3 linked regions of the Homo sapiens genome follow. The protein of the gene in region 2 interacts with the protein of the main gene of each other region in a pairwise test. Each region holds a gene or a part of one and is shown on either strand. Other genes may lie near its edges.

Evidence for each region.
Region 1: the proteins of MS4A4A (region 2) and SERTM1 interact in binary tests that used the Homo sapiens proteins (3 or more experiments, as listed by UniProt).
Region 3: the proteins of MS4A4A (region 2) and LPAR3 interact in binary tests that used the Homo sapiens proteins (3 or more experiments, as listed by UniProt).

Annotation. Positions count from the first base shown.
Region 1 is NC_000013.11:36,671,629-36,675,379, reverse strand, and holds the start of SERTM1 (serine-rich and transmembrane domain-containing protein 1), read right to left. Parts: upstream 1,361-3,751; 5' UTR 1,196-1,360; intron 36-1,195; exon of another isoform or gene 1-35.
Region 2 is NC_000011.10:60,290,654-60,294,404, reverse strand, and holds part of MS4A4A (membrane-spanning 4-domains subfamily A member 4A), read right to left. Parts: intron 2,181-3,751; coding exon 2,021-2,180; intron 1-2,020.
Region 3 is NC_000001.11:84,891,227-84,894,977, forward strand, and holds the start of LPAR3 (lysophosphatidic acid receptor 3), read right to left. Parts: upstream 1,981-3,751; 5' UTR 1,790-1,980; intron 1-1,789. UniProt on the Homo sapiens protein: Receptor for lysophosphatidic acid (LPA), a mediator of diverse cellular activities. May play a role in the development of ovarian cancer. Seems to be coupled to the G(i)/G(o) and G(q) families of heteromeric G proteins.

The sequences.
Region 1 (3,751 bases), on a different chromosome or scaffold from region 2:
AGGAGAAACGTCTTAGGGAGTAGTCCCGCGGGTCCGCCCCAGGACAGTAACGCTGTCAGTTTCCCCGCCCTTTGCACCTGTAGTGCAGACGGTACCAAATGCGATGGCTTTGAGACGTCCTCTAGACATCGGAGCCCATCATTTACCACAAAGAACACTGAAGTACTTACTTTAGCAGAACATTTTCCGAAGAAAAATTAACAGGGAGAGGAAATGAAGGACACTAACAAACAGACCCCATCTCTAGAGTCTGAGATCAAACCCAAGTCCGATGGAGCCCGGGCATCTGGTGGAGGAAAGCGGGCAGGCATAGCCCCAATCCTGGTCCTCAACAAGATATTTCTGTGAATGAATCCCTCTGCTCCCTGGAGGAGGGCACATTACATATCCCTTTCCTAAATCAGAACTGAAGCAATTTGCCCATCATTCGCACACCTCGACAGGGAAAGGCAGGATTCCAGTGTCTCATCAGACCCGGGAAGAGGGGAAGGGTCGCTGGCGCAGTTACCTACTGGGTTTCCGGGAGCTAGGGAAAACGCCCCTGGGAAACGCAAGTGTTCAGCGCCACATAAAACTTCCCCGGATTTAGGGCCACCCTAAGACGGGCGAAAAGACTCTCCAGCGCCTTAGCAGGTGCAAAGCCAGCTGTCAGTGTGCGCATGGCGAGTCCCCGTTCCCGAGAAGGGACGCAAATGACCCTAGAAAATCAGACAGGAGCAAAACAAACCCAAGAATGACCCTCCACACACCACAAAGGCAAAAGCAAACAGAAGGCACCTAGACACACTCTGCAAAGTGTAGAACTGTCTACACTTGCATGGAGGAATCCACCTTGCAGAGCGAGGGTAGACCTTCCCGGTTCCCAGTGTCTGGGACCGAGGCAGGTCAACACGGGGCCAAGGACATTGCACTCAGGGCCCCTCGCGGCTCCTCCTGCAGCCCGTGGAGTCACCCCAAGACTCGGAGAGCCGGGCTGCGATTGCTTCTCGGGACAGTAAGGACACCTCAAAAGGGATAGATTTGGGGGTGTTTCTCAGAAAGGAGCCACATCTCCGGGAGCCCAGATCTCGGGGGAGAGTCTGGGAGGCGGCTCGCCTCCAGGACCCGAGGCCGCCCCAGGCAAGGAGTGGGGCGCTCTCCGCGTAGGGCAAGTTCACCCCCAGAGCTCGGGACCCTGCAAGTTTCCCTCACTGACCTGCAGGTCAGGACACGCGACTTCCCCGGCAGGTCTCCTGCGCTAGCGGTGGGGCGGTGCTCCGGTCTGGACGATACGCGCCCGCGAAGCCGTCCTCGGGAATGTTGGGCGCAGCGGCGCGGCGCGCAGTCTGGGCGCACGGCGGACAGCAGGCGCAGCGGGAGTGGATCCGGGCTGCCGGCCCCGCACAGCCCGCGCGTCGTCCCTCCGCCCCTCCTGGCCGCACAACCAATGGCCGCGAGCGGGTCCCACTCCTCACCGCCCCCTAGTCTCGGCTCTAGCGGGCGCTTGGCTCTAGGACGGCGCCCAGCTCGGGCGAGGGAGGAGCTTGCGCCACCATTGGAAAATCTCGGAGGACGAGGAGGCGTTGCGCAGGGAGCCCATCTGGGGAAGGCAGGTGTAGTGGGTGAACTTTTTTGTGTGTCGGGGGGAGGAGGGGGGAGTGGGGAGGAGGGCAGTTTTTTTAGGGCTCAGGGGCCTTTCTCTGCAGATGAAAGCATCCACTTCTTGCCAACTTTCTCCTCCTCTTACATCTTTTATGAGTTCCTCGCAGCCCCCACCCAAAACAACTACTCTGGGTGCATCATCGCAAGCCCAGCTCTGACTGAGTTGCGTGGGGCATGGCCTCATCCTGTGATGAGCTTAACCACAGACAGCCCTTGCTCAGCCTTCGCCGCGTGCGCCTCTGAATCCTATACCAAATCATTAAATGAGTCGAATAGGATTGGAGTTTCTGTCATTGCCAGGGAGACAGTCAGTCATGAGTCCCTACTAGGGAACTGGCGTAGAGAGTCATATATCGTAACAGAACTCCGGAAAAGGAGGCTTTAACTGATCCGACCAACTTCAGTTACCAGTCAGTGCTGCTACCTTGACCAGAAGACTCTCTCTCTGTATTCCTGTTTTTCAGCTGGAAAATGAGAGACTTCGATCACTTGGTGGCTGCGGTCTGTTTCACTCTGACATTCAACAATATTGTTGCTCTGTGGCCTGTAAAGGGCTGAACTCCTGGGAAGTGTTGGTGTGGCTACCTGTTCCTTGAGCCCCTACTCCATCTGGTTCTGCTGTCTTCACCGTGAGACCTATTAGTGGCCAGAAAAGCAAATCATGCACAATACAGAATCAGGCCACCCAAGTCTCAGTGACCACCAACACATGCACGTATACTGCCACCCACCAGGGCCCGGCTCCTAGGAGCCTGCTACTTCCACCCATGTTCAATTGTTCTCCACGTAGAGATAGGCAGGGGCACCTGGCTTAACTCTGAAGCTCCGTGGTACATAAGTAAAGGCTCTCTGTCTCTCCCCTTCCTTCTCTAGGGCAATTGTGGGTGGGTGTGAATCTCTCTTATGTGGATCCTTCTGTGCCTGATGTAAAATGCAGGAGGATGGAATGAGCTGTGTTGTCAAGAGGGCAGATTCAGAGAACCACTTCCCTCCGGGCACACTTGGATTGGCTTCCTGAATTTCACCTGTTCATGTGCCATTCTCATGAGTTACCTTACATCCATCTACAGTCTGCTCCATTATGCACTTAGTAAATTTTACCTTAGATTTTTACTTGGCTTCATCGTAAGCAATAATATCTATGAAATTATTGGTTTGTGAGATACCAGTTGTATTTAATATTTTAATGCACAATGAAATGAAGGCATAAGTCTTCCATGCTAAAATCATTCTGAATATCACTGGTTGTTCTCACAACTCACTTTTTGAAACACTAAGGTGTATGGGGGGGCAGTTAGAACTGTTGACCTTCAAAACAGTGGTCCTCAAAATTTCTTTGTGCATAAGATTCCTAGGCCCCAACCCTATTGTCTGGTTCATTCATACTCTACATGTTTGTTTGTTTGTTTTGTCTCTCCCCTTCCTTCTCCAGGGCAATTGTGGGTGGGTGTGAATCTTTTCTATGTGGATCCTTCTGTGCCTGATGTGATCCTTCTGTGAGGAGTCTTGCTCTGTCGCCCAGGCTGGAGTGCAGTGGTATGATCTCGGCTCACTGTAATCTCCACCTCCCTGGTTCAAGCAATTATCCTGCTTCAGCCTCCCAAGTAGTTGGGATTACAGGTGCCCACCATCACGCCCAGCTAATTTTTGTATTTTTAGTAGAAACGGGGTTTCTCAATATTGGCCAGGCTGGTCTTGAACTCCTGACCTAAGGTGATTGGCATGCCTTGGCCTCCCAAAATGCTGGGATTATAGGCATGAGCCACCGTGCCCGGCTCATACTCTACATGATTCTAATACAGTTTGTCTATTGAGAAACCCTGCCAACATCCTGCAGTTGTCAGAGAGGGGAAAAGAACTGTTGATTGCTGGGCAGTCTTTTTATTTAGACTGGTATAGCAGTTTTCTTTTCCTTGTCTTACCTTTGGTGACAAGGTAAGGTAAGCTTTCTTTCCCTCGGTGTCTATTTTATAAGAGGGTGGATTCAGAGAACTACTTCCTTCCAGGCACACTTGGATTGGCTTCCTGAATTTCACCTGTTCATGTGCCACTCTCATGAGTTACCTTACATCCATCTACAGTCTGCTCCATTATGCACTTAGCAAATTTT
Region 2 (3,751 bases):
ACAACAGACTGGGAGAAGATATTTGCAAGAGTCATATCTGACAAAGGATCGTTACCCAAAATATACAACAAATTTAAAACTTAACAATAAGAACATAAACGTCCTCATTAAAAATGTGCCAAAGAATTTAACAAGACACCTTACGAAAGAAGATATAGAGATGGTAAAGAAACGCATGAAAAGATGGTCCACATCTTATGTCACAAGGGAAATGCAAATTAACATGATAGTGAGATTCCACTAGCACCTGTTAGAATGGTAAAAATCCAGAACACTGGCACTACCAATTGCTGGAGATTTTGCAGAACAGCAGGAACTCATTGACTGTTGATTGAAATCTTCAAAGTGACAAGGCCATGTGGAAGACAGTATGGCAGTTTCTTACAAAACTAAACGTACTCTTACTTACAATACACTAATCATACTTAACCAAATGAGTTGAAAAACTTATGTCCACACATGACCTGCACACAGATATTTATAGCAATGTTACTCCTAATTGCCAAAGTTGGGAAGCCATCAAGATGTCCTTCAGTAGGTGAATGCATAAATAAACTGTGGTGCTTCTAGACAATGAAATATTATTCAGTACTAAAAATAAATGAGCTATCAAGCCATAAGAAAACATGGAGGAAATTTAAATGCATGTATTTAGGTGAAAGAACGCAATCTAAAAAAAACACCTATTGTACAATTCCAACTGTATGACTTTCTGGAAAAGGCAAACTATGAAGACAATAAAAGATTTGTGGTTGCCAGGGATTGGTGGGATACTATGTGATACTACAAAGGTAGATTCATATCACTATACTTGTGTTAAAACCCACAGAACACACAACACAGAGAATGAACCCCATTGTGATTTGTGTACTTTTAGTAATGATGTGTCAATGTAGTTCATCAATTGGTACAAAGGTTACATGCTGGTGGAGGAGGTTGATAATTAAAAAGCTATGCATTTGTGGGGGCAAGGGGCATATGGGATAGATCTGTACTTTGCTCTCAATTTTTCTTTAAGCCTAAAACTGCTCTAAAACATACAGTATATTTTAAAATAATTATTCATACATTAAAAAATAAACCCACTTTGGGAGGCTGAAGCAGGCAGATCACGAGGTCAGGAGTTCAAGACCAGCCTGACCAACATGCTGAAACCCCGTCTCTACTAAAAATACAAAAATTAGCCAGGTGTGATGGCTCATGCCTGTAATCCCAACTACTCAGGAGGCTGAGGCAGGAGAATCTCTTGAACCCGGAAGACGGAGGTTGCAGTGAGCCCAGATTGTGCCACTGCACTCCAGCCTGGATGATGGAGCGAGACTCCATCTCAAAAAATAAAATTAAAAATAAATAAACAAACAAACCTAGTATGTGCCAACATAAATAACATATTTTATGAGAAATAACTATATTTCCCCCCCTCCAGAAAATGAATAATGTGAAAAAAGGATCCAGAATATCCACAGTGACATTTTCCCGTGGTTTGAAGCTTGGGCTAGTGATAAACCTATATTTAATATCCTTTCACCTGCCCTATTCTGTCATTCTTTTAATCCTTCATTTCTTTTGGGCATGCTCATCTGAGACTCCAGATGGAAATGCTCAGAGGATAGATTTTTCATCCTCTGAGCAGGGGGCTAAGAAAAGGTGCCAGAAAGAAATAGTAGCAATATGTGCCTGTCAGCTATCAGGAAGGCCTGTAAAGGGGGCGTCAGCTAGTAGTGCATAGGTGGCCTTTTATTTTGCTGCTTTTCCACACTGAGTTTAAATACAATTATCATGGATGACCCACAACCCTAGAATAGATCTGAACTCAATATATTTTAAATATAACTCAACTGGAAGCATGTTGTGACAGAATACTATATAGTTTTTCAGATGAAGAGCCTGAAAAGTAATTACTGACGTCGTGAGGGTTGGCTGTTGTATTATGAGGCTAGTGGGACAGTGTATTTGGCATTAGGTCTTATGAAATATGAGTTTGCAACACCATTGGTCTTCCCCTAGATTTGCAACTTACCCCAAGGACTTTGGGTTCTCCCTTCAAGAACTTCTCTTGCAATCCTTTCCACAGATGTGAATGTATGACAGCCATGTTTCCCAGCTGGGGCACACCAGGGCCAGCCCCTGGCATGGCCTGTTCCATTCCTTGCATGGTTGTCATGGCAGCAGAAAAGGTGCTACAATAAGAAATGTAATTTAGTATGATGTCCTGGAAATGGCAAAAGAGGACATGACACTTTGGGGCAGGTTCCTCCCTAAGGACAGAATCTGGTCTACATTCTCTTCCCATATCATAATAGCTGTTAGAGCTGGGGAAGTGGAATAGGCAACACATTAAGTGTGTGTGTGGGGCGGGGGCAGGTGGGAGAGAAACTAAATGTCATATGATATCAAGATGCTAGAAAATCCTGCAGAGAGGGACATGTTGACAGAAGCGAGGTAAACCTGTTGGACCTCTAAAATTAGAGAAATTTCTTTAAGTTCCAATTCCAAGTCGGCTCAGATTTTATTTCTATCCCTCTTACTGCCTAATCCCTTGATTACAGCCACTTACCCACAAAGGATTACTTTGTTTTTTAGTTTTGTTTTTTTGTTTTTTTTTTTTGAGATGGAGTCTCACGCTGTCACCAGGCTGCAATGCAGTGGCGCGATCTCGGCACACTGCAACCTCTGCCTCCTGGGTTCAAACGATTCTCCTGCCTCAGTCTCCCGAGTAGCTGTTACTACAGGCGCGTGCCACCATGCTGAGCCAATTTTTGTATTTTTAGTAGAGACAGAGTTTCACCATGTTGGCCAGTATGGTCTCCATCTCCTGACCTTGTGATCCGCCCGCCTCGGCCTCCCAAAGTGCTGGAATTACAGGTGTGAGCCACCGCACCCAGCTGAAGGATTACTTTTATAATAGTAATAAACTACACAAACTAATCTGCCTTCCAATTTATTGTATAGTATTGCATAGTTCCTCCTTTTCTAATCAGAGCACAGTTAAATTCACAGGGCTGAAAATCTTCCCATGTTCCTCCTTGCTGAGTGTGATTTATGTAACCTTGTATTTTGTGCCACAAACTCTGAACTTTGGGAATGAAACTTATGGCTCTCAGTCATATTCTTGGCACCACAAATCTAAATCTCTTGTCCTATTACATTGCTTTAAATCCTAACTTGCTGGTGCATAGCAAGGATCCATCAAATCATTTTTTGAGAATCTAAGCACAAACATATTACTCTTATATCTCTTTCTGTCCTCAGTATAATAACTCCAACCAAGTCATGTAGAGATAGGCTAAAGTCACATGGAAATTTTTATCTATGTAGTTGAATTCATATTCAGGTGTTTCATGATCAACTTCCATAAATTTTTAGGGAAATGAAGCTTGCTAATATCCTTCAAGTAATAGTTAATTTTGATACCACTTATTCTCCACTGAGCCCCTATAAAAGTCTCGTTTTGAGATGTGTGCCCTTTTATTGGTACCATAAATGAAAAAAAAATTGTTGTACTCCAAATTTGCTATGTTGAGAAAAAAATTAAGATTTCTCTGAAAAAATTATCATCCTGTATTTATTTTTGATACATCAATGGAAATAAATTATTAGCTATCTAACAATAAAACTGATTAAAGTCAGAAGAAGGGGGGTGAATTTCAGAGAAAGATAGAGGAGAAACGTTAAAATGAAAAGATTAATTATTTAGAACATTAATTTAACTTTAGTAATGTATATACTTAAAATTATGAAAAATAGTAAA
Region 3 (3,751 bases), on a different chromosome or scaffold from region 2:
AATTAAATCAAAACCTCAAAGTTTCAAATTCTAAAGACAAAGAAAAAATTTTTGCCAAAATGACCTATTTTCTTAGTTATATGATAGTGACAATCAATGTAAGTGTTGTCCAAATAGTTAGACGTCCAGATCTCCACAGGATAACTAGTTCCTTGCTGTCTCAAGGCACAAGAGACAACTCTGGAAGCTTATCTCAAGTACACAACTCTGACTGGCAGGGTTTGCTCGCTCGTCTTTTTAGTATAGTCCAGTTTGTTTAGACAAGCCTGGGGTTAACAGAGCCAAGGTGTGTGTTTCTAACCGTATCACTTCTGTCCCAAAAAGAGGAAAACTCTGTTTACTGGACTCAGGCCACTAAATATCAGATCCACTGCCCATGGAAAGCAGGGTTAGCAACTGTTGATGGATCAATGGAAAATCCAGCAACTCTTCTCAGCGATACAAAAGTCCATGCATTAATGAAACGTTGTGCGGTACATGGAATTTGTAAAGAGGAGATTGATTGTCTGTCTGTAATTGACATTTACTTTATTCTCTGATACAGACTAAGTTGGAACCGTGAGAAAGCCCTTTATTTCTAAACGGCATCTCAAGACCAGGTAATGCTACTTTCGGAGGAAAAGGAGGAAGAAAAGCGTTGTAATGACAATAACAAATTACGGGGGAAACATTTCGTGGAAATTACTCAGTTTAAAAAACTGACCTAGCCGGGCGCAGTGGCTCACACCTGTAATCCCAGCACTTTGGGATGCTGAGGAGGGTGGATCACGAGGTCAAGCGTTCGAGATCAGCCTGGCCAACACAGTGGAACCCCGTCTCTACTAAAAATACAAAAAATTAGCCTAGCGTGGTGGTGGGCGCCTGCAATCCCAGCTACTAGGGAGGCTGAGGCAGGAGAATCGCTCGAACCTGGGAGGCGGAGGTTGCAGTGAGCCGAGATCGCGCCACTGCACTCCAGCCCGGATGATAGTGCGAGACTGTGTCTCAAAAATAAATAAATAAATAAATAAATAAATAAATAAATAAATAAATAAAAACTAACCTACAAATGCTTTTCAGGGCCATTTTAATGATTACCTTAATAAGACTAAATTGTTTCCAATATTCACAGTCACTCCTCAAATTACATGCGTGCGGAATTTCTAAGCAATTTTGTGTAGCTGCAACTTGTTGAGGGAAAGCAATAAAGTAACTCTGCTACAGAACAAAAGCACTTTTGTCTCGTGGTGGTGAGGGGGCATACCCTGAACAAACAACCCCGACAGTGTTGCTAGTTACTAGTTCCCGAATCTCTAGAAGCCTGCACATGGTTCAAGCTGTTCCCCAGCGGACACAGCACAGTACCAGATGTAACTGGAGGCTGAAAAATGTTATATCCCTAGGCTTCACGAGAGAACCCCAGTTTCCTAATCACCATCGATGGCAATGAGACTGAGTTTGGAAAGAACCACGTGTGCAAAGGCAGACGCAACCCGTGCGGCGCTCTCCTGGCCTCTGCGCCCAGCCCGCCAGCCCTCAGCAGCGGACGCAACGCCGATTTTGCATCTAGATTGCTTTTTGCTCCTAGCGGGGAAAAAGGTGGGAAAAGAGCAAGTTGTGCCATACACCCGCCGGGAGAGTCTTGTCCCGGGGTTTGGAGTGGGTCTGGAGCCCAGGCTTGCACGCCAGGCAACCCCGAAAAGCCGCAGGCTAGAGCCCTGCAGGCGCCGCTGCGCCCCGGCCTCCCCACGACGCACGCCCTGGTGACTGCGGCTCGGGGTACCCTCCCTGCGCCCGGACCCTCACTCACCGCTCACGTTCACCCGCGCCGCCGAGCCCGGGAGCGGGGGCCCCTGCGGCTGCCGCATGCCCTCGGGGTCGAGCGCGACGGGGCGACCGGGCGCCGGGCTCCAGCCGGGCGCGGAGAAGCAGCGGAGGACGCGGCGGGCGGGCGGAGCGCCTCCTCTCCAGCGACCCCTGCGACGCGTCCAGAGCCAAAGGAAAGTTTGGCGGTGCGAGGGAGGGACCTAGGGACAGCGGCCCCTCCCTGCCCCGCCCCGCCCCGCCGGGTGCGTTCGACGTTCCCACTGGAGAGCGTCCCCAACCTGCAAGGCCGCGAGCTGCGCTCAAAGGGGCCCGTGCGAGCCGCGGGAGGGCAGCGCTCTTGCAGACGCGTTCCTGCCTGGGATCGTCCCCAGGTGGGTGGTCGGCCGGCCCCGAGAGGGAAAAGCGCCCACTAAAGGACCGCTAGTACCCACAAGCCTCACGGAGCCATACCTCGGAGCTCCGTATTAGAACGCAGTCCCTCTGCCCCTCTGTCCTCAGAGATTTGTTTGAAGTGGCTGCGGGAAGTGCAGCCCACACCCACCACCCCCGTGGGAGGCAGGCTCTACTCCAAGCCCGACCTAACGCTGGAAACCTCAACCCCAAAGCTACCCGAGGGTGCGGACAGCCCCCAGAGGCAACCAACAATATTTAAGGTTCTTGTAAGAGGTTTCTTGGCCTCCTGGGGCAAATAGTCCTGGATACTTTGTTTTTCAAAGCTGAAATATAAAACCTCCACTGACCCACCTTTAGTAAAGAAGAAAGATGCAAAGTAAAACAAATGTCATGAAGGCATTGTTCTCTCTGAATTCTGCAAAGCAATAACGAAGTCACAGAAATGTTCAAAGTTGTGCTTTCCTGGTGACCTTACAAAAAGGAAATACTGTGAGGTGAAGTCCTTCCCACTCAGACTTCAGGCCCTTAGGAAGCAATGAGAGTTGTGTGCCCAGATGTCTTCCTGTGACCCTTTGCCATCCATCCATCCGTTCATTCATTCATCTTGCATTCACCATTAATACTGCGCCCTTCTGTGTGCCAGCTAGGAACCTCATCCTTGCAAACAACCTGTTAGATAATCTGTCCCCTACCATCAAAGAGATTCTGTTTTCTCTGCAGAGGATGTTTTAATAAGGTTACGTCCCTTACTCCGTGGGTCTTATCCTATAGACCATAATAGCCTAATGTGCCTCAAACCTCCCCGGGGCTACAGCTAAGTTTTCATCAGCATGTGAAAATTATTGTTTCATCTAAGTGTTCAGAAAATTATTGCGGTGTCTTGCAGTTGAACTGTGTAGAGAGAAGTACAACTTGCGAAGCTAGGGCTAAAGAAAGATCATGTGTTTACTTTTACAAGCAGAAGCTTTGCATATGATAAAAAAGCTCGGTGGCAAACATGGTGAAAACCCGTCTCTACTAAAAATACAAAAAGCCGGGCGTGGTGGCACGCACCTGTAATCCCAGCTACTCTGGAGGCTGAGGCAGGAGAATCGTTTGAACCTGGGAGGCGGAGGTTGCAGTGAGCCGAGATCGCGCCACTGCACTCCAGCCTGGGCGACAGAGCAAGACTCCGTCTCGGAGGGGCGGGGGTCGGAAAGAGCTCTCTCTGTCAAGGGAGAGAACAGCTCAGCTCAAACATCACGGTGCTGAAGGGCAACCTGGTAAACACAGAAATACTCAACCACCAGCATTTACTGAATACTTGACGCAACAAAGGTGTAGTATGTTGAGTAAGATGTTGCAGGCTAGACTGTAAACACCACTAAGAGCCTTCTTTTGCTGGGAAAATCTGTTCTGAATCCAAACAACTTACTAACAAAGGCACTTGGGAAACACATTATGTTGCATTATGTTGTACCTTGGGAACTTCCTGAACTCGAGGTAATTGCAAAGCAGAACAGGGATCCCACAGAGTTGAATCTGAATCCTTAAAAAAGGAGGAAAGTGAAGA